Homo sapiens: one gene and its partners. The protein of the gene in region 4 interacts with the protein of the main gene of each other region in a pairwise test. Each region holds a gene or a part of one and is shown on either strand. Other genes may lie near its edges.

What was found.
Region 1: the proteins of CACNA1A (region 4) and LLGL1 interact in a two-hybrid assay, tested with the Homo sapiens proteins (one study listed by BioGRID and IntAct).
Region 2: the proteins of CACNA1A (region 4) and KALRN interact in a two-hybrid assay, tested with the Homo sapiens proteins (one study listed by BioGRID and IntAct).
Region 3: the proteins of CACNA1A (region 4) and HSPG2 interact in a two-hybrid assay, tested with the Homo sapiens proteins (one study listed by BioGRID and IntAct).
Region 5: the proteins of CACNA1A (region 4) and PCSK5 interact in a two-hybrid assay, tested with the Homo sapiens proteins (one study listed by BioGRID and IntAct).
Region 6: the proteins of CACNA1A (region 4) and MIA3 interact in a two-hybrid assay, tested with the Homo sapiens proteins (one study listed by BioGRID and IntAct).
Region 7: the proteins of CACNA1A (region 4) and NELL2 interact in a two-hybrid assay, tested with the Homo sapiens proteins (one study listed by BioGRID and IntAct).

Annotation. Positions count from the first base shown.
Region 1 is NC_000017.11:18,234,993-18,239,604, forward strand, and holds part of LLGL1 (lethal(2) giant larvae protein homolog 1), read left to right. Parts: coding exon 1-1; intron 2-96; coding exon 97-320; intron 321-477; coding exon 478-545; intron 546-1,614; coding exon 1,615-1,768; intron 1,769-1,842; coding exon 1,843-1,947; intron 1,948-2,488; coding exon 2,489-2,781; intron 2,782-3,074; coding exon 3,075-3,222; intron 3,223-3,463; coding exon 3,464-3,617; intron 3,618-4,612. UniProt on the Homo sapiens protein: Cortical cytoskeleton protein found in a complex involved in maintaining cell polarity and epithelial integrity. Involved in the regulation of mitotic spindle orientation, proliferation, differentiation and tissue organization of neuroepithelial cells.
Region 2 is NC_000003.12:124,718,387-124,722,998, reverse strand, and holds part of KALRN (kalirin), read right to left. Parts: intron 4,075-4,612; coding exon 3,529-4,074; 3' UTR 1-3,528. UniProt on the Homo sapiens protein: Promotes the exchange of GDP by GTP. Activates specific Rho GTPase family members, thereby inducing various signaling mechanisms that regulate neuronal shape, growth, and plasticity, through their effects on the actin cytoskeleton.
Region 3 is NC_000001.11:21,930,811-21,934,790, forward strand, and holds part of HSPG2 (basement membrane-specific heparan sulfate proteoglycan core protein isoform b precursor), read right to left. Parts: intron 1-3,980. UniProt on the Homo sapiens protein: Integral component of basement membranes. Component of the glomerular basement membrane (GBM), responsible for the fixed negative electrostatic membrane charge, and which provides a barrier which is both size- and charge-selective.
Region 4 is NC_000019.10:13,296,544-13,301,155, forward strand, and holds part of CACNA1A (voltage-dependent P/Q-type calcium channel subunit alpha-1A), read right to left. Parts: intron 4,114-4,612; coding exon 4,007-4,113; intron 2,811-4,006; coding exon 2,001-2,810; intron 1-2,000.
Region 5 is NC_000009.12:75,896,503-75,901,114, reverse strand, and holds part of PCSK5 (proprotein convertase subtilisin/kexin type 5 isoform 3 precursor), read right to left. Parts: intron 1-4,612. UniProt on the Homo sapiens protein: Serine endoprotease that processes various proproteins by cleavage at paired basic amino acids, recognizing the RXXX[KR]R consensus motif. Likely functions in the constitutive and regulated secretory pathways.
Region 6 is NC_000001.11:222,662,534-222,666,350, reverse strand, and holds part of MIA3 (transport and Golgi organization protein 1 homolog isoform 1 precursor), read right to left. Parts: intron 2,354-3,817; coding exon 2,203-2,353; intron 1,043-2,202; coding exon 732-1,042; 3' UTR 1-731.
Region 7 is NC_000012.12:44,515,766-44,520,377, forward strand, and holds part of NELL2 (protein kinase C-binding protein NELL2 isoform b precursor), read right to left. Parts: intron 4,465-4,612; coding exon 4,240-4,464; intron 1-4,239. UniProt on the Homo sapiens protein: Plays multiple roles in neural tissues, regulates neuronal proliferation, survival, differentiation, polarization, as well as axon guidance and synaptic functions.

The DNA of each region.
Region 1 (4,612 bases), on a different chromosome or scaffold from region 4:
GGTGCGTGCCCTGCCGTACCCTACCCTTTCCCAGCCCCACCTGGTGCCCTCTGCCACCTATGGCTGTGCTCACCCCATACTCCCTCCGTCCCACAGAATTTGATGACCCCCAGGCCCTGGCTGTGCTGCTGGAAGAGGAGCTGGTGGTGCTGGACCTGCAGACTCCTGGCTGGCCAGCTGTGCCTGCCCCATACCTGGCCCCGCTGCACTCCTCTGCAATCACTTGCTCGGCCCACGTGGCCAGTGTCCCCGCCAAGCTGTGGGCCCGCATTGTGAGCGCTGGCGAGCAGCAGAGCCCCCAGCCTGTCTCCAGTGCCTTGGTGTGTGCGGCGATCAGGGGGGTCTTACAGGGTGGAGTCTTGAGGAGGGGGAGAGTTTCAGTTCTAAGCCCGGAGGTCAGAATGTGCCATACTCGGGGTGAGAGGGAGAAGATGTTCGTCCTAACCTTGTGCATACATCTCTGCCACCCCCTCCCAGAGCTGGCCCATCACTGGGGGCCGAAACCTGGCCCAGGAGCCGTCACAGCGAGGGCTGCTGCTGACGGGGTAGGTGTGCGTGCTTATGTGGGTGAGTGGGCCCCTTGCTGTTGGGGGAGAGCCCATCCTGGGCCTGGTGGGTGCAGAGGTGCCAGGAGACTCAGGCCTGGCCCCTGGTGGGACCAGGTAGTTCCTCCTTGCCCAAGGTGGTTTGGAATGAAACCTCCCTGGACCTTGGTTCAAGGTGCTGCCCTGATCTGCCTTTTGGCCTGGAACTGAGCTCTACCAAACCCCAGGGCTCCACCCGCCCAGCCTGCCTGCCCTGGGACTGGAAAATCTGGGCTGGCCCACGCTGAGCTGCCCAGGGAAGGTGCCAGAGAGCCCAGCGTGGGCCTGGCGGGCGCTGACGTGCCCAGTGACTCAGGTCTCAACTTCCTGCCCTGCCCCCACTCCCGCCTGTGCTGGGACCCTCAGGCCTCTGACTCTGGTGTGCCCTTCCCTGCTGAAGAGCTTGCCGTGGCTTTCAGGGCTGCTGGAATGAGTCTCAACCACCCCCACAGTCACACACCTCTCACGCCCTGGCTCTGGGCTTTCACCACCGCCTGGGGCCCTGCTTGGACTCTGCAGCTGTGTCCCAAGGCTGCGCCCTAGATTTGTCTACTCCTTCCCCTGCCCCCTCCCTGCTTTCTCCCGGCCTCTGTAGTCTTCCTGCTCCTCCACCTACGTGGCTGCCTTGGGCCCCATGCAGCTCCTCCCCCGGGATGCCCCATGCTCTGTTCTGTGACTGCCTTACTCTTGATCACCTCTGATGGCTGCTCCAGTGCAGGCAGAACCCCCAAAGTCCTCTGTTCTCTACATGTCCCCCTTTGCCACCTCCTGTTAATCAGGGTGGTCATTTCCACCTTGTTTGGTTTAAAGGCTCCAGGTGCATATGGTGCATGTGGCCTGGCCTATAACAGGTGCACAGTGTACCTGTGCTGTCTACAGTAGGTGCCTATTGTTTTTTGTAAAAGTAGGATTCCGGTCAGTGTTTGGCACGTGCAGTAGGTGCTTAGTGAGTGGTTATCAGATGAGTGAATGGAGGGGCGTGCAGGCCTCCCAGGAACTCGGGTAGCCCTGACATCTGCCCTCCCTGCAGCCATGAGGACGGCACCGTGAGGTTCTGGGATGCCTCGGGTGTGGCGCTGCGGCCGCTCTATAAGCTGAGCACAGCTGGCCTCTTCCAGACAGACTGTGAGCACGCTGACAGCCTGGCCCAGGCTGCCGAGGACGACTGGCCACCCTTCCGCAAGGTGGGCCCCTCCCCTGGCCCTGATGAGCTGGTCCTGACCCCGCCTGGACTCATTACTCCTTCCCATCCCTCTAGGTGGGCTGCTTCGATCCCTACAGTGACGATCCCCGGCTTGGCGTGCAGAAGGTTGCTCTCTGCAAGTATACAGCCCAGATGGTGGTGGCTGGCACTGCAGGCCAGGTAGGGCTGGGTGTCCCCTGGGTTGGAGATGTCAGGGAGGGCTTTCTGGAAGAGATGAGCTGGAGGGTCTGGTGGAAAGGGAGATGGACTGGCACAGGCAAAAGCCAAGGTGGGAATAGGGCTCTGGGTGGGGCTGGCTGGGGTGAGGACAGATGGGAAGTGGGCCTGTCGCTGGGGGAACCACAGTGTTGAGAGGAGGGAACTCATGTCAGTGCTGTGCTCCGGCACTCACATGACATACAGGAGGTGCTCAATGTGTCCTTATTGCTAAATGGGAGATAGAGGCTCAGGGTAAGGGTGGACACTTTGCCCTCAGAGGGCAGGGACTAGTGTGTCTTGGTCACCACTGTGTTCCTTGTGCTCAGCCAGGGCCTTGGTATACAGTAGGCATTCAGTGAGTGCTTGTTTAGCTGATGAACTGAAGACAGTCCTAGAACCACCTTGGTGGTGGCTGGGGCTGCTTCAGAGGCTCCAGGCTGAGTGGGGCCCAGGGCGGCCCCTCCCCTGCGCTGATGCTCCCCCTGCCTGGCTGTGGGCTCAGGTGCTGGTACTGGAGCTTAGTGATGTGCCGGTGGAGCAGGCGGTCAGCGTGGCCATCATAGACCTCCTCCAGGACCGCGAGGGCTTCACATGGAAGGGCCACGAGCGGCTGAGCCCACGCACGGGGCCGCTGCCCTGGCCTGCTGGCTTCCAGCCCCGTGTCCTGGTGCAGTGCCTGCCGCCAGCTGCTGTAACCGCTGTCACACTCCACACCGAGTGGAGCCTCGTGGCTTTTGGCACCAGTCATGGCTTTGGCCTCTTCGACTACCAGCGCAAGAGCCCTGTGCTGGCCAGGTGTGTGGGGTGGGGCCGGCTGGGCAGTTGGAGCCCCCAGCGAGATGGGGTCTGGGCTTCCGTTTCCACCTCTAGTGTTTGGTGTGGCAAAGGCCACTAACCTCCATTGCCCTATAAGAAATAACCTGGCAGCTCCAAGAAGGACATTCTCAGTACCACCTGCAGCTGGGTCCATAGGACTGCGCCAGAGGGGCTGTGACTCCCTGACCTGGGTGCCTCCACAGGCCAGCAGGAGTGTGGTGGCTGCCCCAGGAGGCTGCTCTATAGCACGACTGGACCCTGTCTTCCCCCAGGTGCACTCTTCACCCCAATGACTCCCTGGCCATGGAGGGTCCGCTCTCCCGGGTGAAGTCTCTCAAGAAGTCACTGCGCCAGTCTTTCCGGCGCATTCGCAAGAGTCGTGTCTCTGGCAAGAAGCGGGCTGCTAATGCCAGCAGCAAGGTGAGCTGGGGTGGGCTGCACAGGAGCTGTGCCTGTGTCCTGTGCCTTGGCCTGGCTCTGGCCTGGGACCCCTGGGGCCTGCTTAGCTCAGTGCTCCTCCCTCGGCAGCCCCTGGGCCCTCCAGAGGGATGGGTGAACTAAGCTGGGTGGTAGAGGAATGGTAACAGAACGTAGGGCGCAAAGCAGGATGCAAGCCACTGGGGTGCTAGGGAGACAGTGTTCAGGAGCCCCCGCCCGGCAGTTGCAGGAAGCCAATGCACAGCTGGCTGAGCAGGCCTGCCCCCACGACGTGGAGATGACGCCCGTGCAGCGCCGCATTGAGCCCCGCTCTGCCGATGACTCCTTGTCGGGTGTCGTGCGTTGCCTATACTTTGCCGACACATTCCTTCGAGATGGTAAGGCAGGGGCAGGGGCAGGGACAGGGCAAGGGTTGGGGGGGCTGGCCTCAATTGGCCACCTGGGAGATGGGTGGTGGCAAGGGAGGTGGTGGGACTGCACCTTCCAGGAGGTGGCTGGGCACGGTGGCTCAAGCCTGTGAGTGATCCCAGCACTTTGGGAGGCCGAGGTGGGCGGATCACCTGAGGTCAGGAGTTTGAGACCCGCCAGGCCAACATGGTGAAACCTCGTCTCTACTAAAAATACAAAAATTAGCCAGGTGTGGTGGCGGGCGCCTGTAATCCCAGCTACTTGGGAGGCTGAGGCAGGAGAATTGCTTGAACGTGGGAGGCGGAGGTTGCAGTGAGCCGAGATCGTACCACTGCACTCCAGCCTGTGCAACAGAGTGAGACCTTCTCAGAAAAAAAGCTTACCATCCAGCTCTCCCAGGGGGACTGCTGGGTCACCCCCAGTCTCTCTGGGGGAGCTGGATGGTAAAGGATTTTTGAGTGAGCTGGGTGGGCCTCTCAGATCTGAGCCAGGAGAAGGGAGGTTGAGGCCTGGTGGATGACGGTGAGGGGCACCAGCCAGTGCCCAGGCCCCGAGCCGGGCATGTGTGTGGGCAGCTGCCCAGCCACTTGGCTGGAGTGGAGCAGGTGAGGGTCGAGGTGTGTGGTTCAGGGAGATACTGCTGCTGGCCAGAGGCTGAGGACCTGGCTTTGATTCTCAGTGGCCTGGGAGCCCTGGGAAGGTCCTGGATTTGTTGATTGAGTCACTGATTGATTTTGAACTTGTACAATGGGAGAGTTTCAAACATACACAAAAATAGAGAGGTGCAAAGTTGTCCCACATACCTCACATGCCTGCCACCAGCCATGTGCCCCTGCGGATTCTGCCCCCCTCCTCCACATTCTTTGCTGTTTTTTTTGCCGGGGTATTTTAAATGAAAACCCAGATACAAGTACTTCAGCATGTTCCTGACAGATGTCACTGACAGCCACTGCTCACATCATGC
Region 2 (4,612 bases), on a different chromosome or scaffold from region 4:
ATTTGAAACAAATGTAAAAGATGTAGGAAATCATTATATTAATACTTCTTAAAAGTTATTATGGGTTGTCCCTGATCTTTTCATTCTTTCTGTATCCCACCCTTACAAAACAAAACAAAACAAAAAGCTCAAAACCCTATGCAATGAATAAAAGCCAAGCAAGAAACTTGTGACCTTGACCATTGTTTGTTTTTCCCATTTCAGCTGAAAGTTCACTCCCACTGTGAACTACCATCATAATGATAGAAATGGACCATTTTCTCTTCTCTCCTCTCTTCTTTACTACCAAGTAATAAATCTCTCCGCCAAAACAGGAACAAGAGTGGCCCCTGATCCTTTTTCCCTAAGCACGGTTGCCCTCAGAGCAACCTAAAGTACATTCCCCAGGATCATCATCATCTGGGATTCCTTGTTATTTCCAACTTGCTGTGGAGAACTCTTGAACCAAGACTACTCTCTTATCTCTGTTGGGAGGGACCAGGAGCTTTGCAGACAGGGAGCCTCCCTGTTAGTTTCCCTCCGTTATCAAACTATATAAAATATACCCCCTTTCTCTTGGGGCCTCTATTAAGTTCATTCTAGTCTAATGATTGTACCTTGGCTCCAGTTAACAAAATCATCCTACTTTTCATTTCTAGGTCCCTCCTTTCCTGTCTTCTCACTTCCCAAATATGTGTACTTGGGGGAATTCCATGCAACCCCACATCTGGATCCTCCCAACTCTGTTGTAAAAGCTGATATGAAAGCTTGGGGTCTGTCTAACATTCTGTCAACTGCCCCCATAACATAATTTCAAAAATACCCTCCTTGTCCCCCACCTGCCGTGGTCTGCACACCATTGTTCTGGGCCCTGGCCTTCTCAAGCAGAAACTCAACTTGTTATAAAAACTCAGAATGGCTCAGCAGGGGGATCTTGATTCAGGTCATCCACAGTGGACAGAACAGAACTTGCCAAGCTGGACTTTATGGATATTGGGAATCCTCAGAGCCTACAGTTTGTCCCATGACAAACCCTATGGGCCAGGCTTTCCTTTTTTTTCGAGACAGAATTTTGCTCTTATTGCCCAGGCTAGAGTGCAGTGGTGCAATCTCGGCTCACGGCAACCTCCGCCTTCCGGTTTCAAGCGATTCTCCTGCCTCAGCCTCCCAAGTCGCTGGGATTACGAGTGCCCGCCACTACGCCCAGATGATTTTTTTGTATTTTTAGTGGAGACAGGGTTTCACCATGTTAGTCAGGCTGGTCTCGAACTGCTGACCTTGTGATCCACCCGCCTCGGCCTCCCAAAGTGCTGGGATCACAGGCGTGAGCCGCCGCGCCCGGCTCAGGCTTTCCTCTTTTATGCTGTATACCATAATGAAGACATGTTTATTGAAAGGGTTTTAGTAAACTGTTTACTAAAAGGATTTTTAGTAAATATGTTTTAAATTTTTTAAACACAATGAAAACATGTTTACTAAAATTTTTTTACTAAATATGTTTTACATTTTGAAAAATTTTAGTAACCATGTTTAATGTATGTTTTAAATTTTTATGTATTGTATCATAGAGTGTTTGTAAATACATAAAGGTCCAAATGAAGACTATAGGGGTTAGTCGAGAGACCTCTGAGGGAGTGAGGCTTTATGACCCAGGGCCATTTGAAAATTAAGAAACAAATACAGTCGGAGTCGGTTTCCATATATTTGGTTAATCCCAAAAATACTAAGTGCTATCTAGTCTTATTGCTTATACTTTCCATTAATTTATCAATCTATAATCTTGGATGGGATGAGGTGGAGGGCGAATGAGGAAGTTGTCTTTGAAACCAATGGAAAAAAAAAGATGATGATTTTTAATTTTACATTTTCTCTGTGGGAATAAGTGTTTTTTATATGTTAAAGTTCAGGCTTAGTTTCCACCATTTCTTTTTCATTTAGATAGGTTTGTAGTTCTATTCATCCTTCATAAATTCTCTTCTTGCACTTCTGTACTACGTGATTTTAATTTTCTCTATCCCATTATAGGAGAGAAGCAACACCATTAAACCTGATTTGAACAAACACTTGAGTTACATTTTTAAAATCTTACTTGTATAATCGCAATTTTCAACACACATTCTAGAAAACTAAGGGTGGATCATGTACAAACACAAAAAACAAGCTCCCTCCCTCCAAAACAAATGAACAAAAATAAAGAAAGAAAACCCATGAAATGCCCAGGTTTAATTTTTTTTCCACCAGAGGGAAAAAGAGCAGTTAATAATAATCTTGTATGGAGAATATACACCAGAAAGCAGCATTGGCCTCAAAGTACAATTAGTCCTTTTAGTTCAGAGAACTATCAGCGGCTGCATGGTGACAGGTATTGCAATCTCAGTTACAACTTAATGCTCTGTTAGGGTGATGTATCAGGTTTTGTTCCATGGCTTTAAAAAGGACTTAGAACCAGGCCTTTAAAAGGCCTATATGGCTGCCTCCTTTTAGTAAGCACCCCTTAGCTTCAATAAGGAGTTAGAAATAAAGCCAGCCAACTTTCTGAAAGATGGTATTCTACAGCTGTAGAAGAAATCAGAAAGTGTTGGTACGTTGTTCATAGGAACTGTAGGAAAGGTTTTCATTTGCCCTTTTATATGAACCTCTTGTATTTGTTTACTTATTTCAAACCTGGTGTAGACACAAAAATATCCCCGCAGCTCATACTGTATTTGAATTTATTTCCTGGCAGGCTTTCTTTCCAGAATAATTCTGAGCTGCCAGTGAATTTGCGGGGAGCGTTTCATATACAGAAAGAACCTATCTTAATCAAATAACCTGCGATTGACAGAAAAAATTTTCTCATTCAAAAGGGCAACATTGCTTTCTCTTAATGCACAGGTTCTGGTAAAAGATTTCTATACAAGATCTATAAAATGCTCTAAAAAAACTTGTCATCTAATTGTGCTTAGTCAAAACAATGTAATGATTCGGTAAATAAATTACTGTCTTAACTGGAGCACTCAAAATTACTTGTGATTGATTTAATATATATATCTCTATATTAGAAAACTCTGAAACCTGAATGGGATATATTATACTGTATGTGGGTATCTATCCTATTAAGAAACTATATCTAAGTTATCTAAACCAGAATAGTTGATATACATGACATCTCCATTAAATAGAACTTCTTGCTTAAAATTTCAGCAAAGCCAGAGATCTTTTATACTCTTGTGAGCTTAAGGTTTGCCCAGTTAACCACTCATTTTGGAAGATACAGTTAAAATTTCGTAACAGCTAATATTGTTCTTATCTTTGCCCTTCTTCTGAACACTTCTGTGACCCTTTGCCTCTTTATTTCTTCAGAATGACCTTCTGAAAAGCCCCTTGATTTAGGGTGACTTTTACTGCTGCTCAGACCCTGAATAACCACTGACGAGGTTTAAGAGGTACATCTCTCAATTCAGAGAACTGCACGGAGTGAAATGATGAACAGAATTATTTACAGTCACATTCAGTCTTGCTTTGGTTCACACTGCACGTCTATGTGAAACCATAGGGGCTGGGAGATGGCTACGTCCCTTGGTTCACCCGGTTGACAATGTAGCTCTTGACATTGGGAATAGGCCGCACATCATTCTGGTGCTTGCGACGTTCTATGAAGCATGCTAGGCGGGAGGTGTCCAGGGGGATCTTAGAGTAGCTGCCATTATGGGGCTGCAGCCATGGATGCTGCAAGCATGTGGCTGCTGTGGGCCGCCTCCGAAAATCTTCCTGTAAGATCACATTGATGAAATCTCTGGCAGCATTGCTCACACCACAGAAGTATTCATGGGGGAAGCTGAAATCCACCCTGCATACGTTGATACATGTCTCCTCTTTGCTCTCATCCAAGAAGGGGGAGACCCCACTCAGCATGACATATGTCAGAACCCCGATGCTCCAGATGTCTGTCCCCAGGGAGACGGGGATGCCTTGAATGACTTCTGGGGCAGCAAACTCAGGGTTCCCCAGCAGGTGGTGAATGTGGAAGTGACCCGAGATCTGGACAGCATCCTCCAAGTCAATGAGCTTCACTCGAGGCACTGGAATCCGTAGGTCAATGAGCAGGTTTTCAGGCTGCAGAGATCCAAGGAAGCAGGGAGAAAAGAAGGGAAGTTTAGGCCTCTATTTTGACTACTCAAAATACCTCATTAATTCAAACACAGTTATGCTATTCTTTGATAAAGCCTATGGTGTACAGAAAATTCCCTATGCACTACGGAAACTGCATAGGATACTTCAAACTATCATTTTGAGCTTACTACACTTTGAGTTTGGGTGGTAATTCAGAGAAGTTGTTTGACATTGAAAATCATGTTTTCTTAACTACACTGCTTCTGCATTGAATCAAGGAAATAATAAATTACTCATTTTGGTGAACAGGGGCTTCTTTTTGAGAAGCATGGAAGAGAAGGTGACGTTTGTTGGCTTACTTCTATGAAGTTAGATTAGGTAGGTAGAACTTCCCTACCTTCTCTCACACCAGATGTCATTGTGGCTCTGGCATATTCTCATTAATTCATGGATGATACACTTAAATTGTGTGACAGCCCAGATTCTCTTTAATAGTCATAATGGGGAGGCCGGGCACGGTGGCTCACACCTATAATCCCAG
Region 3 (3,980 bases), on a different chromosome or scaffold from region 4:
TAGAAGATGCTCCACAGATATTTGTGAAATGAATTTTAAAAAACGCTTAATCACATACATCATTTGTTCATTCATTCATTCAACACACTCTGCAAGGCTTTGCGCACCAGATACTCCCCTAAAACCCAGAGCAACAGGACACCCTCCTTCATGGCTCAGGGAATGGGCCCTGGTCAGGAGCTAGGAGCTGGTCCTAAGGCTATCTCAGGATGCCACAGATGCCTCCAGGGATGCTCTGAGGTTCCTGCAGGCCTGGCACAGATGAGCATCATGGAAGGGAAGGGAGAGTGGTTCTGGGGGCAGCAAGACTCAAAGGCCTCACATTCCCAGGCCTCAAAGAGCCACCTTGTTCTCAGGGCTTTCATGACAGCACCCCCGACCCGGCCACCCCAGCAGCCACGAGCCACACCCCTCTCAAGGCTGCTATTGACACAGCCCTGACGCCACCAGGCTGGGCAGTGAGGCCGGCGGCTCCCCGCGAAGTGAGTTCCACACATACTTCTGGGTTTCAGTCAGCCAGCTCTGGGTGCTGGGGCAGCTGGCCCCGGGAGCAGGAGGGGGTGGCAGGGCCAAAGAGGCCAAGGCCCAGGCGGAAGCAACATTCCAGCAGGGCCGGGACCCTCGGCGCAGCCTCCCTCTTCTTGGCAGGAGCAGGAGCGAGAGGAGAAAAAGGCCAGGGTAGGCCCTGGGACAGGGAGAGGTAGGCCCAGCAGATACTTGGGAAGCTGCCGGGGAACCAAGTCATATTCACTTCCTCCTCCAGTCTGACCCCTCATAGCTGGGACTGGATTGGGTGAAGGGGAGGGGGGCAACAGGCCAGGGCTGGGAACCCTTCCCATATACCCCAAGTAGTCTGAGGGTGCAGAGCCCACACCTCTGGCCTCCAAGTGGCCTCTGAATCATTGCTCCAGATCTTTCCATAGCCTGGGCAGGCCCTCCTGCCCTCCCTCCTGAGCCTCTCACCCCAAGGCCAGGCAGCCCTTGAAGCTCTGCAGACTCACCCTAAACCTTGAGCCCCCAGGGAACAGCCAGAAAAAAACAGCGCAGGCTCCACACAGGACAACCAGGAGGGTGTTCTTCCCCTTCCCCCACTAGCAGCATGGCAGGGGCAGGGGCCCCTGACCTCCCACACTGGGCAGGGCCAGCCTGGCCCACTCAGGCCTAAAAGTCCCTGGATAAATTCAACTGCCTGTAGAGTCCCAGGAAATATCTGATGAGAACATTAATGAATTAACAAACCTAAAAATGACCACCCTAGAGTTCCTAGGCTTCCCCTCCAGGCACAGGCGTCCCTAGGAGACCCCACGGACACTGAGGCATACCCAACCTAAGAGCTTCTGTCCCCGAGCCAATCCCTGATATTCCTTGCCTGAGGTAGCCCCTGTACTACTTGGGACCAGAGTTCTTAATCAACATCTGTGACAAGTTGTAGCAATATCTACTGACTGCCCACGACAAGCACATGGGGCAGTACGTGGCGTGATTAGGAGAGCTTCGTCTGGATTCAAAACTTGGCTTGCAGCATCTCTGAGTGTGTGGATATGTAAGTCACTGGGCAAGTTACGTAACCTCTCAGTGCCTCAATGTCCTCTGCTTAGAGAATGGGGATCAGGCTAGTAGCTACAGCTTAAAACATTCGACAAAGATATTCACTAAGCACTTACTACCTGCCAGGTGCTAAGCATACAGCAGTGAACAAAAACAAATGAGGTCCTGCTCTCGTAGAACTTAAACTGAGCAGGAGGAAGCAGATAAACACATAAACAAATACAGACAAATACAGGCCAGACAATTGTGAGAACAAAAATAAAGCAGTTTAAGGAGACAGCCATTATGGGAAGAGTGGTAAGGACCAGAAAGAGGGAGAGGGTCATATGGATATTACGGGGACAAATGTCCCAGGCAGAAGGAACAGCAGACGCAGAGACCCTAAGGTGGGAGTGTGTTTCACATGCTCAAGAAACAAAGCCTTGGTCAGGCGAGGTGGCCCATGCCTATAATCCTAGCACTTCAGAAGGCTGAGGTGGGAGGATAGCTTGAGTTAAAGAGTTTGGGACCAGCCTGGGCAATACAACAAGATCCCATCTCTATTTGTTTTAAATTTTTATATTCATTAGAAAAGAAAAGGCTGGGTGCAGTGGCTCACGCCTATAATCCTAGCACTTTGGGAGGCCGAAGGGGGTGGATCATTTGAGCCCAGGAGTTCGAGACCTGCCTGGGGGAACATGGCAAAACCCTGTCTCTATAAAAAATACAAAAATTAGCCAGGTGTAGAGGAGGGTGTCTGTAGTCCCAGCTACTCAGGGGGCTGAGGTGGGAGGATCACCTGAGCGTGGGAGGTTGAGGCAGCGGTGAGCTGTGATTGTGCCACTGCACTCCAGCCTGGGTGACAGTGTGAGACCCTGTCTCAAAAAAAAAAAAAAGAAAAGAAAAAGAAACAAAGACTGGTATAGCTGGAGGAGTTTGAGAGGAGCAGGTGGCAGGAGGCCGGGTGTTGCAGGGCCTCGTAGGCTATATTAAGTCAGGGGCTGGGACCTAATTCTGAGCACCGCAGGGAGGTGGTGAGCAGGAAACACAGGTGAATGGGAGGATTCACTGAGAAACTCAGAGCAGACAGTGGGTACTGGGTAAGTCTGAAGTACCCGTATTACTGTGTCATCATCCAGCCTGGCACCCCAAGAGCTCCTTCCCCTCCACTTTGCTCACCCGTCTTCCGGGCCCTGAACCCAGTCACCTCCTGCCACCTTCTTTCCACCGTCTCCCGGGCAGGGCTTCAGACCCACAGATCCTAACTTGTCTGCGCTCAGCCTGAGAGCAGGCCCGGGCCAAGCCAGGCAGGGGCCACAACTCCCCAGACAGGGGGAAATGGGCCTAAGGGATGGGGGGGTGGTCCATCTCTGCCCCTTCCAGCTTCTACCCTGCAGACAGACCTGCAGCCTGCCCTCCTTCCCTCCGGGAATGTCCAGGGCACACTCAAAACCCCATCCTGTGCCGGCTGCAGGTACGGAACAAGTAGGCTAGTGTCAGGTGACAGAGCAGCTGGCTGCGTGGAGGAGGGCTGAGGGACCGCCAGGAAGGGGAGGCTCCTGCAGTTCAGCTGGCAGCCTCCCCAGTGAGGAAATCCAGCTGAGGCAGGAAACAGGTATCTCAGCGACTTCCCTCCTAGGCCCTGGAAAACACCTTAATCACCACCGAGGCTCCCTCAAGACGCCTGTCCCCTGCAGGGCCGCCCTAAAGGGGTCAGCAGGCCAAGGCCTGCCGAGTCACCCAGGCCCAGCCCCCTCCTCCAGCAAGCCTCCTCACCTCCCAACAGCTGAAATTACACCCACACTTAATCACAGATCAGCTTCCTGTGGTCCTGTCCCCCGTCCCGGGGAAGCCTGGAGCTCCCTAAGGCCCATCTCACCCTGCTGCTGTGCCCAACCCTTCCCCATAAGCCACTGGCTCCGGACCAAACTGAAGGGCAGATGAGAGCAAGGGTAGCAGGCAAAGAGGGTCCAAGGTGTGCTGGGAGCCTGGGCTAGGAATTGATCTCATTTTTGACTTGCAACAAACTCCTCAACCCCATTGTACAGATTTGGAAACTAAGGCTCAGAGAGAGGAACTCGCCCCAGATCACACAGCCAGAAACCGCAGCCCAGAGACTCATACTTGGGTCTGTAAGACTTCAGAGACAGGCCAGGCATGATGGCTTATGCCTGTCATCCCAACACTTTAGGAGACCGAGGCGAGAGGATCGCTTGAGGCCAGGAGTTTGAGACCAGCCTGGGCAACAAAGTGTGATGCCCTCTTTTTTTTTTTTTGAGACAGAGTCTTGCTCTGTCGCCCAGGCTGGAGTGCAGTGGCGCGATCTCGGCTCACTGCAAGCTCCGCCTCCCGGGTTAACGCCATTCTCCTGCCTCAGCCTCCGGAGTAGCTGGGACTACAGGTACGTGCCACCATGCCTGGCTAACTTTTTGCATTTTTAGTAGAGACAGGGT
Region 4 (4,612 bases):
AGCTTTCTAACATTTTTATTTATTTTTAAAAGGTGAGGTCTCACTATGTTGCGCAGGCTGGTCTTGAACTCCGGGGCTCAAGTGGATCCTCCCACCTTGGCCTCCCAAAGTGCTGGGACTACAGGCATGAGCCACCACATCCCGCTGCATCCAAAGCTTTGAAACTCTGCTCTCCCTTCAATTCTAACGGCCCAAAGTGCCTTTTCTTTTTCTTTATTTTTTATTTTATTTTTTGAGACAAAGCCTTGCTCTGTCGCCCAGGCTGAAGTGCAGTGGTGCAATCATAGCTCATCATAGCCTAGACATCCTGGGCTCCAGTGACCCTCCTGCCTCAGCCTCCCAAGTAGTTGGGACTGCAGGTGCATGCCACCACATCTGTTTAATTTTTTATATTTTATAGAGATGGGGTCTGCCTCTATTGCCCAGACTGGTCTCCAACTCCTGGTATCAAGTGATCCTCCCACCTTGGCCTCCCAACAGAGTGGCTTTTCAAACTTCCAAAGAATAGCATTAGGTAAATAGAGTTGGCTGAAAATGGCCAAAAATGCTCTAAATTTACCGAGCACTTATTATGTGTCAGCTGCTCTTCCAGGCCCTTTGCATACATTACCTCATTCAATCCTGGCAATGACCCAATTAGATCCCACTATTTCCATTGTGTGAGGCCCAGAGATATGAAGTCACTTTGCAAAAGTCACACAGCAAGAACACAGAAGACTATATAATTCTGGACGACAGTGGGGCTTCTCTTAATAGTTTCCCTGAAATGCTCAAGGCCTCTGGTGCCAGAGAGCCTGGGTTCAAGGACACTGGTTAGAGGAATGACCTTGAGGAGCTCACTCAATCTCTCAGTTTCCCCATCTGTGAAGCCTCTAATCCGAACACTTTGGGAGACTGAGGTGGGATGATTGCTTGAGGCCAGGAGTTGGGGACCAGCCTGGGCAACAGAGCCAGGCCTCATTTCTACTAAAGGTAAAAAAATTAGGCTGAGTGTGGTGGCTCAACCCTGTAGTCCCAGCACTTTAGGGAGGCTAAGGCAGGCGGAATGCTTGAGTTCAGGAGTTTGAGACCAGCCTGGGAAACACAGTGAAACCCTGTCTCTACAAAACACTGTCTCTACAAAAATTAGCCAGGCATGTGGCACATGTCTGTGGTCCCAGCTACTTGTGAGGCTGAGGCGGATGGCTTGAGCCCGGGAGGTAGAGGCTGCACTGAGCTATGACTGCCACTGCACTCCAGCCTGGGCAACAGGCGAGACCCTGTGTCAAAAAAACAAAAACATACAGCATTTTTTTTTTTTTGAGACAGAGTCTTGCTCTGTTGCCCAGGCTGGAGTGTGATGGCACGATCTCAGCTCACTGCAACCTACCTCCACCTCCCAGGTTCAACTGATTCTCCCGCCTCAGCCTCCTGAGTAGTGGGAATACAGGTGGGCACCACCACTAATTTTTGTATTTTTAGTAGAGACGGGGTTTCACTATGTTGGCCAGCCTGTTCTCCAACTCCTGACCTCAAGTGATCCGCCCGCCTCGGCCTCTCAAAGTGCTGGGATTACAGGCATGAGCCACTGCTCCTGGCCAAATACAGCACTTTTTTTTTTTTTTTGAGACAGAGTCTCACTCTGTCGCCCAGGCTGGAGTGCGGTGGTGTGATCTCGGCTCATTGCAACCTCCGCCCCCTGTTTTCAGGCGATTCTCCTGCCTCAGCCTCCTGAGTAGCTGGGGCTACAGGCGCCTGCCACCGTGCCCGGCTAATTTTTGTATTTTTATTAGAGGTGGGGTTTCACCATCTTGGCCAGGCTGGTCTTGAACTCCTGACCTCGTGATCCATCCGCCTCGGCCTCCCAAAGTGCTGGGATTACAGGCGTGAGCCACTGCGCCTGGCCAAATACAGCATTTTATAATATATTTTTATAAACAAATACACAGCACGTGCTACTTTGGCTGTTGTCATTATTAATGTTACCGTCATTCTGCGGATTCGAGGTCACCTCCACTTACTTCCTCCTCCGATGCCTCCGCTCCTTGTCCTCCCTCCGCGCGTCCCCCTCGTACGTGGCTGGAGCGCCATGCCGGTGCCTTCTCCTGCGCTCGCCCCCGTCGGGGCCCTCGCCCTCGCCCTCGCCGCCCCGGGCCGGCCGGCTGCCCTCGCGGTGCCGCGCCCTCCGCTCCGCCTTGTCCTCCGGACCCTCCTCCCCGGGCCTGCGGTGCGCGCGATGACGTCGATGCTCCCCGTCCGCGCCCGTGCGCGGGGACCCGCTGCGGCTCTCCCTGCTGCCCCCCTGCCGGTGCACGTGCCTCCGGTGGGGGTCCCCGGCCTTGCCTCGCTCGGCCTCGCCCTCCCAGAACCCGGGTTGCTCCAGGCTGCCCTCCCGGGCGTGGTGGTCCGACTCGCGGCCGTAGGGTCCCTCCCGGCTCAGCTCGGCCTCCTGGCTTCCCGCCCAGGGCCTCCGTGCGTCCAGGCCCGCCGAGCCGCTGGGGTCCCGGGCCCGATCGTGGTAGCGGGCCTGTTTCCTGAGGAAGTCCTCGGCGCGCTGCTGGCCGAGGCGCTGGTCCACGGTGGGCTCGGCCGCCCGGCTCTTGTTGGTGTTGTTGTTGCGGTTCTCCTGCGGGTCCACCACCAGCGGCCGGTCCAAGTGCGTCTTCATGTCTGGCCGCAGGTGCCGCGTGTAGGCAGCCTTCCAGCGCTCGTCCGGGTCCATTTCGTTATACAGGGCCTCCCGGCTGGCCAGCAAGTTCTGCTTTCGCATCTCACTGGTCCGCTGCTCCCACACGGACTTGGCTGGCTTTTGATTCTTCTGTTGCTCTTTCCTGCAGTGGCATGGTCACAGGACTTAGAGCATTGCTAGGCACTGTAGCTTGGATGGATGACCCAGGCGAACCAACCCACATCTCAGCCTCCCACTCCTGCTCTCCACCCTCTACTCCCCACTGAATGCTAGGAGTCTGTGAGCATCTGAGTCAGGTCCCAGCCTCCTCTGCTCAAGAACCCTCCATGGCTCCCACCTGGCTAGGGGCAAAAGCCCAAGTCCTCCCCCCTGACCCAGAAGGCCCTGTGTAATCTGCTTGTCACCTCCTTGCCTTCACCTCCTCACACTTACTATTCGATTCTAGTCACACAGGCCTCCTTCACATCAGGCATGTTCCTGCCTCAGGGCCATTGCCTATGCTGTTCCCTCTGCCTGGGATGCCCTTCCCCAGGCCCCCCAGTGGCTCCTCCCTCACCTCCTTCAGGCCATGTAACCTTCTAGGTGAGCAGTCCCCAACCTTTTTGGCACCAGGGGCCAGTTTTGTGGAAGACAGTTTTTCCACAGACCTAGGTGTGGGGGGTGGTTTTGGGATGAAACTGTTTCACCTGAGATCATCAGGCATTCGATTCTTAAAAGGAGCACGCAACCTAGATCCCTCAGATGCACCGTTCACAATAGTGTTTGTGTTCCTATGAGAATCTAATGCTGCCTGCTGATCTGACGGCAGGTGGAGCTCAGGCGGTAATGCTTGCTTGCTCACTGTTCACCTCCTGCTGTGCAGCCCCGTTCCTAATAGGCCTCGGCCTGGTACCAGTCCACAGCCCCGGGACTGGGGACCCCTATTCTAGGTGATGCCTTCCCTGACAACTTCGTTTAAAATCACAACTCTCTTCACTCCCAGCATTTGCTATTTCCCTCCCCTACTTTCTCTGTAGTTCCATCGCCTTCTAACACAATATATAATTTACTTATTTATCTAATTTATTGACTCCTTCCCTTGCTAGAATGGCTACACACAGGTGGGATTTTTTTTTTCCTCCTTGTTAATGCTGTATCCCCAGAAGTTAGAACAGTGCTGGGTACATAACAGCTGCTAACCAAATATTTATTGAGTGAAAGTGGGTGGAAGGACAAGAAGTGTCTCTTCCTAAAGCTCAGTTCTGTCAAGGACCACCCCCACTGCTTCCCAAATCTGTGCCTGGGATAGTGTGGACGTTCAGGAGCCAGGGTAGCATCCCAGGGATTAGGGGCACTTACACAGCTATAGACATGTTGGCCGCGGACAGAGGACTCACTTCTGCCACCTCCTTGGCTTTCTGTAGGGCAAGTTTCTGGTTCGCTGCTTCTTCTTCCTCTTGCTCGTCCTAAAAGGCACGTGGAATCTTTGTTCACAAAACATGAACTAGGCCTTGGGGACTCACTTCTGACCCTGTTGCTGACCAGGGGCAACATTTGAAATATTTCGACCAATCAGAACCAAGGCTCCCCAATTGGAATGGGTACCTGCTATTGGTTAAGTGTATTGCTATCCCCTCTGTGTATAAGTTTGACATCTAACTCATTATGAAGCCTATTTTAACACACAGCCAGATAACAAAAAATAAAAATGTCCCTTCTCTTCCTACAATGAAGACTTTCCTGCAGCCTATTTTTTTTTCTTTTGTTTGTTTTCAGAGACAGAGTCTCCCTTGGTTGCCCAGCCTGGAGTGCAGTGGCACAATCATAGCTCACTGTAACCTTGAACTCCTGGGCTCAAGCAATCCTCCCACCTCAGCCTCCCAAGCAACTGGGACTACAGGTGCATGCCACTATGCCTGTATACATTTAATTTTTTTTTTTTTTTTGTAGAGACAGGGTCTCACT
Region 5 (4,612 bases), on a different chromosome or scaffold from region 4:
AGGCCACTCTATACTTCCTTTCCTCCTCAGCGGAATTCCTCTGACTCGCCACTCGCCCTTCCTTCCTCTTTAGTCTGAGGCACCAACGTTTCTCTTCCTTTCCAGATGGACTTTTTATCCCTCTTTACTTACACCCTGCATGCCCCCTGCCCACGTGCTCACTGTGTTTCTCCTGTACCACACACTGTTCTAGGTGCTGGGGATACAATCATGAATGAGGCACTGCCCTCTCAAAAAGCTCACCAGCTAGTGGAAGGATAGGTGTGTAATTAGACACACACACACAAATTCACATACAATTGGGATGACTACATCATTTATCTTCCAAACTTGGACATGTTTGAGAGTGAATGGGGAGGTAAAAAACAAATGGGGTGAACCGATTTACTGCAGGGTAAAAAAAAAAAAAAAAGTTGTTTGTTTTTTTTTTTTTTTTGAGACAGAGTCTCGCTCCGTCACCCAGGCTGGAGTGCAGTGGCATGATCTCGGCTCACTGATGCCTCAGCCTCCCGGGCTCAAGCAACTGTCCCACCTCAGCCTCCCGGGTAGCTGCAACTACAAGCACAGACCACCACACCTGGCTAATTTTTGTATTTTTAGTAGAGACAGGGTTTCACCATGTTACCCAGGCTGGTCTTGATCTCCTGGCCTCAAGAGATCCAGCTCCCTCAGCCTCCCAAAGTGCTGGGATTACAGGCATGAGCCTCTTCACCTGGCCAAAAAAATTTTAAACAAGATATAATAACTCTCATTTACAGAGTATTTGTGTGTCAGATACTATTCTAGCTACTTTTAACTCATCCTCACAACAATTGTATGCGGGGATCACTCTTGTTATTATATCCCTTACACACATGAAGAAACTGAGGAACAGAGAGCTTAAGACACTTATCTAGGGTCCTCCAGCTAGGAAGGAGCAGTATTAGGTTTCAAACCCTTTTAATTCTAAACCTATGATCCTAACTACTCCAGCACATTGGCAAGAAAGAGATGAAGGGAGCGAATGGAGGCTGGCAGGTGGATAGAAGCAGATGTCCAATGAAAAACTGTTGTACTCCGTTTCTCTACTGCCCCACAACCTGACTTCCACTCCACTATTCAATCAAGCATTGGTGCTAAGAGCACTGGAAGCCTCCTTATCACTTTACACACATCCTCCTGGATTCTTTCTATAGCACTTCTCACTACTGCACACCATCTAAAGGAGGCACCCTTTCTTCTGGTGGCTCTCTCCATCTTCCTGGCCCCTTCATCTACTCCCGTTCTCCCTCGCTCCCTAAGTGGAGACATTCTTTTCTCTGCCTTTTCTTCTCAGTGCCCCTCTCTTCATGCTTCATCTCTTAACAATCCTAAGCCCTTCCACAAGCTTCCTTTATACTGAGGTTGATGATGAGTGCTAATTTATACTTCTTTCCCAACCTAAATGCTCTTCCACCTACTAGACATTTCTATAAGCATGTCCTTCTATCTTCTAACAAAAAGAATGCTGATGATCCCGCTTATATGTGGAATTTAGGGGAGAAAATGTTGATTACATAGAAACAGAGTGTAACAGTGACTACCGGGGTGAGGAGAGGGAGGAGGGAGATGTAGGTCAAAGGGTACAAACTCACAGTTATGTAGGATGAATTTGTCTAGAGATGGAATGTGCAGCAGGAGTACTAGGGATAAACAACATAATAATACTGTGTTGTTTATTGACTATTTGCTAAGAGACTAGATTTCAGGTGCCCTTACCACAAAAAGGAGGGGTAATTATGGAAGACAATAAATATGTAAATTTGCTTACCTGTAATAATCATTTCACTATGTATATGTATATCAAAATATCATGTTGTATACCTTAAGTATAAACTAATGCTGAGCCTATTCTTTTGTTCTCAAAATGATCCTGCAGACTGTCCTAATTCTACACAACAGTCCACCATTCTCCTGGTCCCAAGGCTAAAACTTTACAGCTATCTTCACATTCTCCCTCCTCCTCATCCCCTACTTCCATTTAGTTACCAAGCCCTATTGAATCATCCTCTACAAGAACTTCCAAATCTTTCCATTGTCATGGCTCCTGTTTCCATTACCAATAATCATTGCCAACACAATAACCACTCTGCCATTATGCATTCAGTTCATTGTGCACACTGCTACCAGCAGACTCTCCCAAGGCGTGACTGAACCATACTATACTACCCAGAAGTCCATTACTATTTGTCTTACTAAATGATAATTATAGGTGAAAATGTTCTAGCTTCTCAAGAACAGAGAATGTTTTCTGATCTGTATGTTACATGGTAGACTTGTGCTGGTAGAATCAGTGGGTTGTTGTCTCTCCTTCTCAGAGATCCTCAATATAAACTTCAATATAAACTTATCCAAAATAATAAGGTTGAAACTCTCTAGCCTAGGCATTTAGGGCCTATAAAACCTGATCTCTAGTGGGTTTTTTTTTTTTTTCTTATCCCACATCTCTTTTCTCTTATTCTAGTAACAGCATCCCACTTTCCTTTGGGGAACTGTCCCTACCCAACTGGTGGACTGCCCATCAAAGGTCAACATCTCCCTTTGAGGGAGGACATGTGACCCAAGCTCACCCATCAAAATACTGCTACCCTCCTAGACAAAGTGATTGGCCCACATGTGGGGATACGACCCCAGTCAACGATCAGGAGTCTTTTTCAGGTGTTAATTTCAATACTGGATAAGAAAGGTACTAAGCAGCATATGAACTTTGCTGCTTACTAGAAAGCACCTTCTGAGGGAAAAGGAGAAACAGCTGACATTAGCACTACCTCTGGCTTTTCAGCTGGACAGGCCCACAATCATTTTTTTGAAACTCTTGGATTTAAATATGTTTCAGAACTCAGAATTATTCAGGTGAGAATAGCACAATGAGGCACATACTTGAGTATATTACATACACCTCTGTCTGGATCAAGGACAACATCACTGCAATCAAATTCAATTCATATTTCTGCAATGAAACAAACTAAGGGCCTAATTAATGTCAGTTTAGGTCAGGGTAGGTTTTGCCATGAAGAAAGTGCAGATCAGGTAAGGTCTGATTACAAAAAGTGTTCAGCTGTTTTCAGAAAGGCATATAAAGGCATGTGAATCTGTTTAAACTAACAAATTCCCAGTACGCTTATCTGCTTGTTTGTTAGTTTTAAGCAGTTTGGGGTTGATTTTTGACACTTGTACCTGAAAAAGGTCCCATCTATATTCCTCATGGGCCTATTATGTGTCAGTTTTACTTCCCACTAGTCTTCTATACAGACTCACACTGGAGTCAAACTAAAAGACTAAGTTTTGATACTTTAAATAGAAAATCTTGCCTCGTCCCAGTGGCTCACACCTGTAATCCCTTAGGAACACCAAGGCAGGTGGATCACTTGAGATCAGGAGTTGGAGACAAGCCTGGTAACATGGTGAAACCCCGTCTCTACTAAAAATACAAAAATTAGCCAGGTGTGGTGGTGCTTGCCTGTAATCCCAGTTCCTAGGGAGGCTGAGGCAGGAGAATCACTTGTGCCTAGGAGGCAGCGGTTGCAGCGAGCTGAGATTGTGCCACTGCACTCCAGCCTGGGCCAAAAAGCAAGACTCCGTTTCGGGAAAAAAAAAAAAAAAAAAAGAAAAGAAAGAAAATCTTGCAACCTCCATAGAGTATATGTCTTATAAACAAGGGCTGTCCAACAGGAGATGGGAGCCTTAGCTGGCTGGTTTTCTTGTCAGTTGCCCCCTCCCCTGTCCTGTCTCCATGGCTCTTGGGGGAAAAGTGTAGCTATCACATCATCCTATGGGAGAATCAGGCACAACACTTATTCCTCTTCCTTTCAGCCCCCATTATATCCCCAGGGACAATCACAAGAATCTGGAAAATTACTGTATGTTGTTATTCTCTTCTGAGTGCCTGTGCATCTCTTAGGTGTCTTTAAAGATCATATAATGCTCCCTATGCCTTATTTTAGCTAATACACACTCATCTTCACTATTAGGTCACCTGATTTTCACAGCAACTCTATGAGGTGGATGGAGTAGGTATTATGGCTCCCTATCTGAAAAATGAGGAACTGAGGGTCAGGTTGGTTGATAAAAGTAAAGACCCTGGAATTTCACTCAAACCTGACTCTTAGTCTTGTTTTCTTTCCGATCTAATTTTACTCTCAGGATGAACTCAAATTGGAGAGTTTATTGGTATTGATTGTTCCTCCTTGGTACCCTTTGATGTAGAGATGGATAATCTGTTGAAACTAGTGAGAACACTCATGAGTAATTTTACTCTAAACTATGTGCAAACTTTATTCTGGTAAAAATAAAAATTGACATATATATGCTGTGCATATGTACATATATTACACACATACATATCTGTGTATATATCATATATAAGTATATGTGTATATATGTGTGTGTGTGTGTATTCTAGCATGCATTAATGTCTATAAGCATTTATTTTTACCAGCCAGGAAGCTAAAGTCAGCTTTTCTGTCATTGATCACAACCTGAATTAAATGAATAAAAAAGTCCCAATGCAGAGCAATGCCTGGAGATACTTCAGCCTTGGTAAAAACCAGACACTGCTTCACATAACTTGAACCGACAACAAAAATATCCCTCC
Region 6 (3,817 bases), on a different chromosome or scaffold from region 4:
GTAAAGAAAGCATGTGAATGCTATACAAGTGGGAAATAAACTTCTTTGAAATAAAAAGACGTCACTTGTAGAGTTCACAGGTGACGGAGGAGCAGCCGGAAGTGTGCCACCAGCCACCATCTTCAGTTCTGGGAGCCTGAGTTTACATGTTCCCCAAATGGCACAAGCCTCATAACAGTCCAATGAGTCAACAGACACTTGGGAAATATTAATAAACAAATTTTTATGAGCTATTACTACAAAGAACTTCAGCAAGAGGGGAGATAGTTTAGTGATCTTTTAGTAAACATTTTTAGCGTAACAGTCTTTGTGACCAGATAGTTTAAAAAAACGCTTATAAACACCATTGCTCCGTATTCAGCTGGTGTACACTAAAAATAGGATAATGGAAATACATGTTCTTAAAGCATTTCCACAGGAAATGTTCATATTTTTCATGACATTCTAAATCATTTTGCAATTACATATGCTACATTAGCTAAAACACAGGTATTCTTTATTGCACATTTCAAAGTTGTAAGGACGCTCTAGCTTAAAAGGTGATTTTTATTTAGGGAAGAAATGACATTTTTGAATTGTTTGGCTCAAAAATGCACACTGCCAAGGCAGCTTAGTTCTAACAACAAACCTTTTAAAATAAACTTTTGGATTTTGAAGCCAATGAAATCCTTTACTGTAATGGATAATGCACAGTACACTTTCTTTCCAATGAAACCTCAGAGGTCATAGTTTTATGGGCTCTGTTTTAAAGCCTGTGAACAGTCCTGGCTAGTGCTCTGAGAGGCAGGTGGAGGCTCATCTCTAGAGCCTGACGGCAGTAAGTCTCTTACAGCAGGTGGTGGTGGGTATTCCTGGGGACCATGGGTTGGGGGTGGTAATCGGGTACCAGGAATAAAGTACTCTCTTGGGCCAAGTGAACCTAAAGGTCTAAATGGTGCGTGTCCAGGTAAAAATCCCCGAGGGTGGAGAGGCAGGTCCCGTCTTCCTGGTGGAACGCCTGGTGCAAATTCTCTTAAGCCTAGTGGTGGACGCATACCAGGGCCTGGAAAACAAAAATTATTTCCAGTAAATTCCTAGGAACGTATTTAAATTAAGATAATGCCAGGTATGTTAATATAGTCTGTCATCCTTTTTTTTTTTTTTTTTTTTTTTTGGCGGCAGGGTCTTGCCTGTCACATGGGCTGGAGTGTAATGAGTGATCATGGCTCACTGCAGCCTCAATCTCCCGGACTCAATCAATCCTCCCACCTCAGACTCCCCAGTAGCTGGGACTACAGGTGCACGCCACCACTCCCAGCTAATTTTTGGATTTTTTGTAGAGATGGGGGTTTCACCATGTTGCCCAGGCTGGTCTCAAACTCCTAGGCTCAAGGGATCCACCTGCCTCAGCCTCGTCTAATGAATGCTGGGATTCATAAAGTGCTGGGATTACAGGCGTGAGCCACTGTGCCTGGCCTGCCATCTTTATCTGAAAAAGAGAGATAGATTTGTACTTGGAAGTACTATATACCATACCAAGAAGACAGACTAAATATGGCTTCATTGCAATAAAAATTTTGATAAATTCCATTAACTACTGTGTATCAGTTAAAAATTTATGCAGTAGCTCAAGATGTACCTAATAAATGCCATAAAAATTAAGGTGCTTGCCCTGCTGGAAAAGGCTTTCCAGCTCCATCTAATTAAATTCAGCAGCATTCATTAGATAGCTGTTAAATTCTACCTTCTCTTTCATATCTCCCTTCTTTGTATTCCCAAGGTGAGGGTTGAGGGTTTTGTCTTTCCTTAATATTCTGTGACCTACTGCTTATGCTTCCATTATGGGTGATTAGAAGCTTTATGTTGTAGAATGTGTATATTTGTGACCTACAGGACATCTTAGTTAGGGGATGTATTTTATCTACCTTGCTATCCATTGCAGAGCCTAGTACACAGCCACAGATGTTCAATGTGATGAATATTTCTGGCTTTTTATAAATAGCCCCTTTCCTTGTTCTATTAGAGACAACTATTGCCCATCTAATCACAGGAGATTATGTAGCACCCTTTGTGTCTGAAGAAACTTGGGGAAAAGTTACGGTGTACTCAATCAGCTTCACTGCTGCATTGCAAAGCCCCGCAATTGCAGTTGTTTTAGCAAGGGATAGATGGAGAAGATGAATGTGCTTTACAAGTCAATTACTACTGTTCAGATCATCTTACCAAAGGGTGGAGGAAGTGGCCGAGGCCCAAAAGGTCCGCAGAGCTGAGGTGGTGGTCCATATCGAATGGGTGGTGGTACAGGGCCTCCCATGGGGGTGCTCATGAGAGGGACTCCTGGGAAAGGAGGGGGCCCTTTTGGAGCCATATTAACCTGCAGAGTAGAAACAATTGAAGTTTTGAAATACTATGGTATGACAGACAAAAGCACCAACACCAGTAAAAACTAAAACCCAATGAAGCAGATGTCAGGCACTTGTCCAAAGAGCAGAATTAGTGCAAAAAACTCTACCCCTCTCATTTGTTCCCACTGACAAGCTTAGAAAGGTTAAAAGTATGCCACAGGAGTGAACACTTGCTGTATCATATTATTGCTTACATCTGCAAATGGAAGGGAACGCACAGGTTATAAATGGAGGTCATTCCTGACTAATGATAGAAGTTACGCCATTCATACATCTATTTCTAAGGCAGTCACTCCCTCTGCACATCCCTCCTATCAGAGTAATTTCCATATTAAGAATGCAGAGAATGAAAGGGAATGAAAAATCCATTCTCTACCATGTAACAGCGATTATTCAGAGTACCTTCTGTAGGCCCTACATATATTAACACAAATTCTGACATCTCTAAATCTGTAATAGGACCATCTTGTTCTAAATATGCAGGAACACAGGCGCAGAGAGTATTAGATTTGCTGATGGTCACACAGCATGTAAGAGGCTGGCTGGAATTCCATGCCAGGTTTGACTCCAAGGCCACGTTCTTTCCACCTCTGCTTCTCCTTTCTAACAAAGTAGTCTCTACACTCTTCGAAGTCTCCTACTTCAAAGGGGTCTCGGGTCTTATCCAAGCTGCTCTTGGATAAAAACATTTCTCAAGAAATGTGTATTCCTGGAGTCCTGTGCTGGAACTTGGAAGTATTTTCCAAGAGAAACAATGTTATGTACACAAATTATACAGGCACAGCTCTATTCATCTTCATTCACTAGTAATACTGTCTACTATGAGATACTGATTAATCACTTCCTATGGGAAAGTGGGTTGGAAACTCTCAATCATTAAAATTATTTTAATTTCAATGTCGAGAATCACAGTGAGGTATGATCAGAGGACTTACCAGCCATAACAGCTATACAAGTTACAAGAGAATACACTTATGTGGACACTGTTTAAGGACACTGCTGGGAACTGGCTCAACGGGTAATTATAGACTTCCACTATTCAGTATTTCACTTCCAGCAAACATTCTTCTGTTATCAATCTGTAATTTCAGATCATTCAAAATAGGGTTTGCCTAGTATACAACTGTAGGTATTCTTAAATAGCACACTTCCAAATGAAGACATAATAATGAATTACACAATTTACAATGAATTTACTTTGCCTAAGAGCATTAAACACTGAGACACACAAGAGTGGGGACTTTTCACTTTTGTTTAAGTTAATTACAGTTACAGCAGATGCTCTACACAGGTTAAATGTCTAACCAAACAGGAGAGAGGAGAAAAGGCCAATGAATCCGTCAGATTTCAGCAACACTCCCAAGTCAAGGATAAAAGTAAGATCAATATTGCCATGCAACTTATAGCCCAGTTCAGTCCACACTTCTAAGTAC
Region 7 (4,612 bases), on a different chromosome or scaffold from region 4:
CCTGCTATTTTTGGCTATATTTATTGTTAAAGAAGTCCTTGCCACTCTTCATGCTAACCTTTGAAAATCAAGATTAGAAGACAGTCAACTTTTAATTTTCAGCTACACTTATATTTTTTAATCCTATTACTATTGATATTTCAATATGTTTTAATAGAGTCCATTTCCTTTATTTTCAAGATTTTTGTAGTTAAATAAAGTGAATATGTAATTATACATAATATTTTTTGTTTGTTTTCATTATTATCATGACCAGTACTTTTTTTTATTATACTTTAAGTTTTAGGGTACATGTGCACAACGTGCATAATATTTTTATCTTAATTTTTATTATAAGCATTGTGATTACTTCAACAGCTGAATAATAATATATGATCTTCTAATATGTAATTAGAATATATTATATAAGTATAACACATCATATAATTGCATTGTATACAAAGTTACTATAACTTATTTAACTGTTCTATTGTTGGATATTTTCGTTTCTTCCTTAATTCTGTATGACAATGTTGAGATGGATATTGGCATGTATATAGCTTGTTTTATACTTTGATTATTTCTTTAGGTTAGATTCTCAGACCTGGGATTAAAGAGAACAATATATTTGTGTGTGTATATGGGGGTGCGGATAGTATGTGTTGCATTGTGTATTTTTTAATGATATTAACAGTGCACAAAAATAATAATTCCAGTATATCTCTGTCAGCATTAGAAATTATTAGGAGAAACTTTTTTACTATAGTATGTGAAAATAATTATTTATAATTTTAGTTTACAATTAAGGTTCAATTATTTAAAGGCTCAATGATTTCCTCTTTTATTTTAGTAGGTGTACTTTTTTAGTGAGTTGTTTATTTATCCTTTGCAGATTTATTTATGGGGGAAATAATTGCTTTCCAAAAAAGTTTTAGAGGCAAGGTCTTACTTTGTCACCCAAGGTGGAGTGCAGTGGCATGATCATGGCTGACTGCAGCCTTGAACGCCTAGGCTCAAGTGGGCCTTCTGAGCAGTTGGGATTATAGGTATGAGCCTCTGCACCCAGCAGTAAGTGCTTTTCTTATTAATGTTTATGTTTTTAATCTAACAAAGAAACCAAATCTGCTGAAGCTGTTTTTCTAGTATGTAGTTGTGACTTTTTTTTTTTTTTTGCTAATTTTATGTATCTATAGAAGCACTAATCTTTTCTTTCAGGTATATTTTATCACTGATAAATTTTAAAAAGTATCTCCCTTCTAGAGTTTTGATAAATATTTAATTATATTTTCTTTATTTTAATTTATTTTAATATTTAACACTTTTTCCATGTGGAATTTGTTTTGATATGTAACATAATTTTTATAACTGTGTGTTATTTCCCTCAAATTGTTATTTAGTCATTCCATTATTTGTGAAATAATGTTTTCTTCCTCCATTGATCTGCAAAGTCCTGATCATATATTAAAAGCTTTATTATAATATTGCTTATTTATAGGTATTTTTTCCTTAGATCGAGTTATCTATTCTAATGTTAGAACAGAGGTCCACTGGCACAACTTCAAGTTTGTAGTTTTTGATAGATAAAGGCAACATTTACAAATGTCTGGTACCTACCCACCAACTACTTTCTCTCTCTCTCTCTCTCTCTCTCTCTCTCTCTCTCTCTCTCTCTCTCTCGTTCCCACTCTTGCCATGTGAAATGCCTTCCCCGAAGCAGACCATGGTACTGTTTCCTATAGACCCTGCAGAACTGTAAGCCAATTAAACCCCTTTTCTTTGTAAATTACCCAAGCTCAAGTATTTCTTTATAGCAATGCAAGAATGGCCTTACACAGTGTGCTATCTAATATGACAGCCAGTAGCCACATGTGGCTATTGTGCAGTTGAAATGTGGCTAGTGTAACTAATAAATTAAAATTTTCATATTATTTAATTTTAATTAATTAAAATTTAAATAGCCACATGTGGCTACTGACTAGCATATTGAACAACAGAGTGCCAGATAATAAGCTGATAGAGAATAATTTCCAAGGGTGACTGTGTCTGGTTTTGCTTATCATTATACACCTGGTACCAGCACAATGCCCCACACGGTGTGTATTTATCAATTAGAAACAAATAACTCAGAGGGGAGTAGAATGGAGACATAATAAATAAAATAGTGCTTTCAAAGCACTAAATTGTGAAGAATGCTTACCTCTAATGCAATACTTGAAGCTTGTTTTGCATAAACTTTATTTTCAAAATAACACAAAATAAATGTAATAAAAATGAGTACTTGAGATAAATTTGACAAAACTGAGCATATTTTTATGACTCATATTTAATAACAAGAGATAAAGAAAATAGTATTTAATAGTAACTTCTATGAATCAGTACTTATCTGACAGAAAGAAATGACTTTAATATCAAAATACACTTTCTGGAATATATTCCTATCAAAAGCTGAGAGATTATAGTAGTTGTTTATAAGGTAGTGAATGACAAACTCATTCAAATACTTTTTTTTTTTTTTTCTGAGATGGAGTCTCGCTCTGTTGCCCAGGCTGGAGGGCAGTGGCACAATCTCAGCTCACTGCAAGCTCCACCTCCCGGGTTCACGCCATTCTCCTACCTCAGCCTCCTGAGTAGCTGGGACTACAGGCACCCACCACCATGCCTGGCTAATTTTTTGTATTTTTTAGTAGAGACGGGGTTTCACCGTGTTAGCCAGGATGGTCTCGATCTCCTGACCTTGTGATCCGCCCACCTCAGCCTCCCAAAATGCTGGGATTACAGGCGTGAGCCACCGTGCCCGGCCTCATTCAAATTCTTTACCCCAGAAAACAGTCTGAGTTGTTTTCCTGCCTATTACTGTATGCATTTTTCTTACTGGAAATATCCATCTGTGCTATATTTCATTTTTGTCCATCACTCAATATATATTTTTGTCACTATTGCTCAGAAGAATAATCTCACAGAAAGATTAAGGGTGTAAGAGGACTCAACTCTATTTGGTAATTAAATGACAGAAAGTATTTCCCTGTTAGTCATTAGTGCTAAGTTTCAAGATATGCACTATTAAGTATACACATATTAAATGTATATTAAAGGAACATCGCATATACATTATTAGTAACTTTTAGTAATAGTAACTTTTAAATTTGCTAATGCATTTCATAAAACAGCAGTAAATGTTCACTCAAAAAGCTTTGCTTGATTGACAAATTGCATTGATTGAAAGAACTAGAAATTTGAGCTTGAAATAGATAAAAATGGCATCTCAAAGCTTAAAGCATTTTATATTTCTTTGTCCTGTTACTTCAATCTACTCTGGTAAGAATTTGTAGTAAGTGAATCTGAATTAAATTGCTCTGTAGGAAAAAAATTACAAAATGGAAATGCTCACTTAAAAAAATCAGAGCAGTTACAGATATCTGGCTATGTTATGCTGAGAAAAATCTGACACGTCTGCTATTTAGTTGTTACTGTTAAGCCTTCAGGTTATTTATTTAGTTTTAGTGTTGATTACAAAATTATGACTATAAAGCATAATGGCCACAAAATTAAATTTTTGTAGAAATAATAATCAAATTAGAATGCTTCCAACATTGTCACTAATCTACAAACTCTATATGCTCTGCCTATATTCATTGTATTTGTGCTCTCATTGAAGCAAAAGGCACAGAGCTCTATTTTCCAATGAGAATAAGGAGAAAGAGCTTTGTAATGGTTTTTCTCCAACTGTATGAATAAAATATGGTAAAAAACAGATCTTAAATGTTTCAACTCAATGTAACTGACCACAACAAACCAAGAAATATGCCCATCTTTGCCATATTGATTTCCACTTTGGAAAATGTAATAAATCTACTTCACTTATGTATCTTACGGACCTTGTAAAAGAACCAGCTAAAAATCAATAAAACAATATTGTCTCCTATCATGAAAGAAGAAACATGAGGTTTGTTGTTTCAGCTTTTTTAAAAGATGTGTACGGTTAGATATCTAGGACAATTTAAGTAGCTTGTTTCTATGTTGGTGATATAAATAACGGATCATTCTGGTTTTAGTCCATGCACTATCCTTGAATATACATCAGATGGATGTCCATGACAGCCCTGGAACTAACAGCTGAGTGGCATTCCGCCCACCTATGTTTGAAAAATAAACAGGAAAAAAAAAAAAAACCTTCCTATTGTCCAGGTAGAGCACATTATTATCTATGAGCCCTGGGTGCAGCTGGCAAAGTGCTCACTATTTAAATTTAATGGAGTTTACCTTGCACTGGCAGAGAGTACACTCAGTGCCATGTTTGATCCAAGAGGACCCGGTGAAGCGAACCACATTCATTTCGTCCAGGCAAGTCTTGGTGATGTCATTGCGGATGGTGTCAGCCTGGCAAGGGTCTGTGACACAGCGCGGGCAGCACTCATTCTCTGGGAGAATGCTGAATTCACACTCCACATCTGGGCAAGGCAGGGGCCAACAATCAACTTCCCCTTGCTACAAGGAAAGCAGATGTGCAAGGGCAGAGGGAGAGGGAGGAGGAAATGGAGGGAGGCCAGGAAAAAGCAGATGAGCACAGTGTTTACTGAATACTCAATTATTTGATTGATATTTAAACTTAGATCTACAAAGCCCATGAATCTTT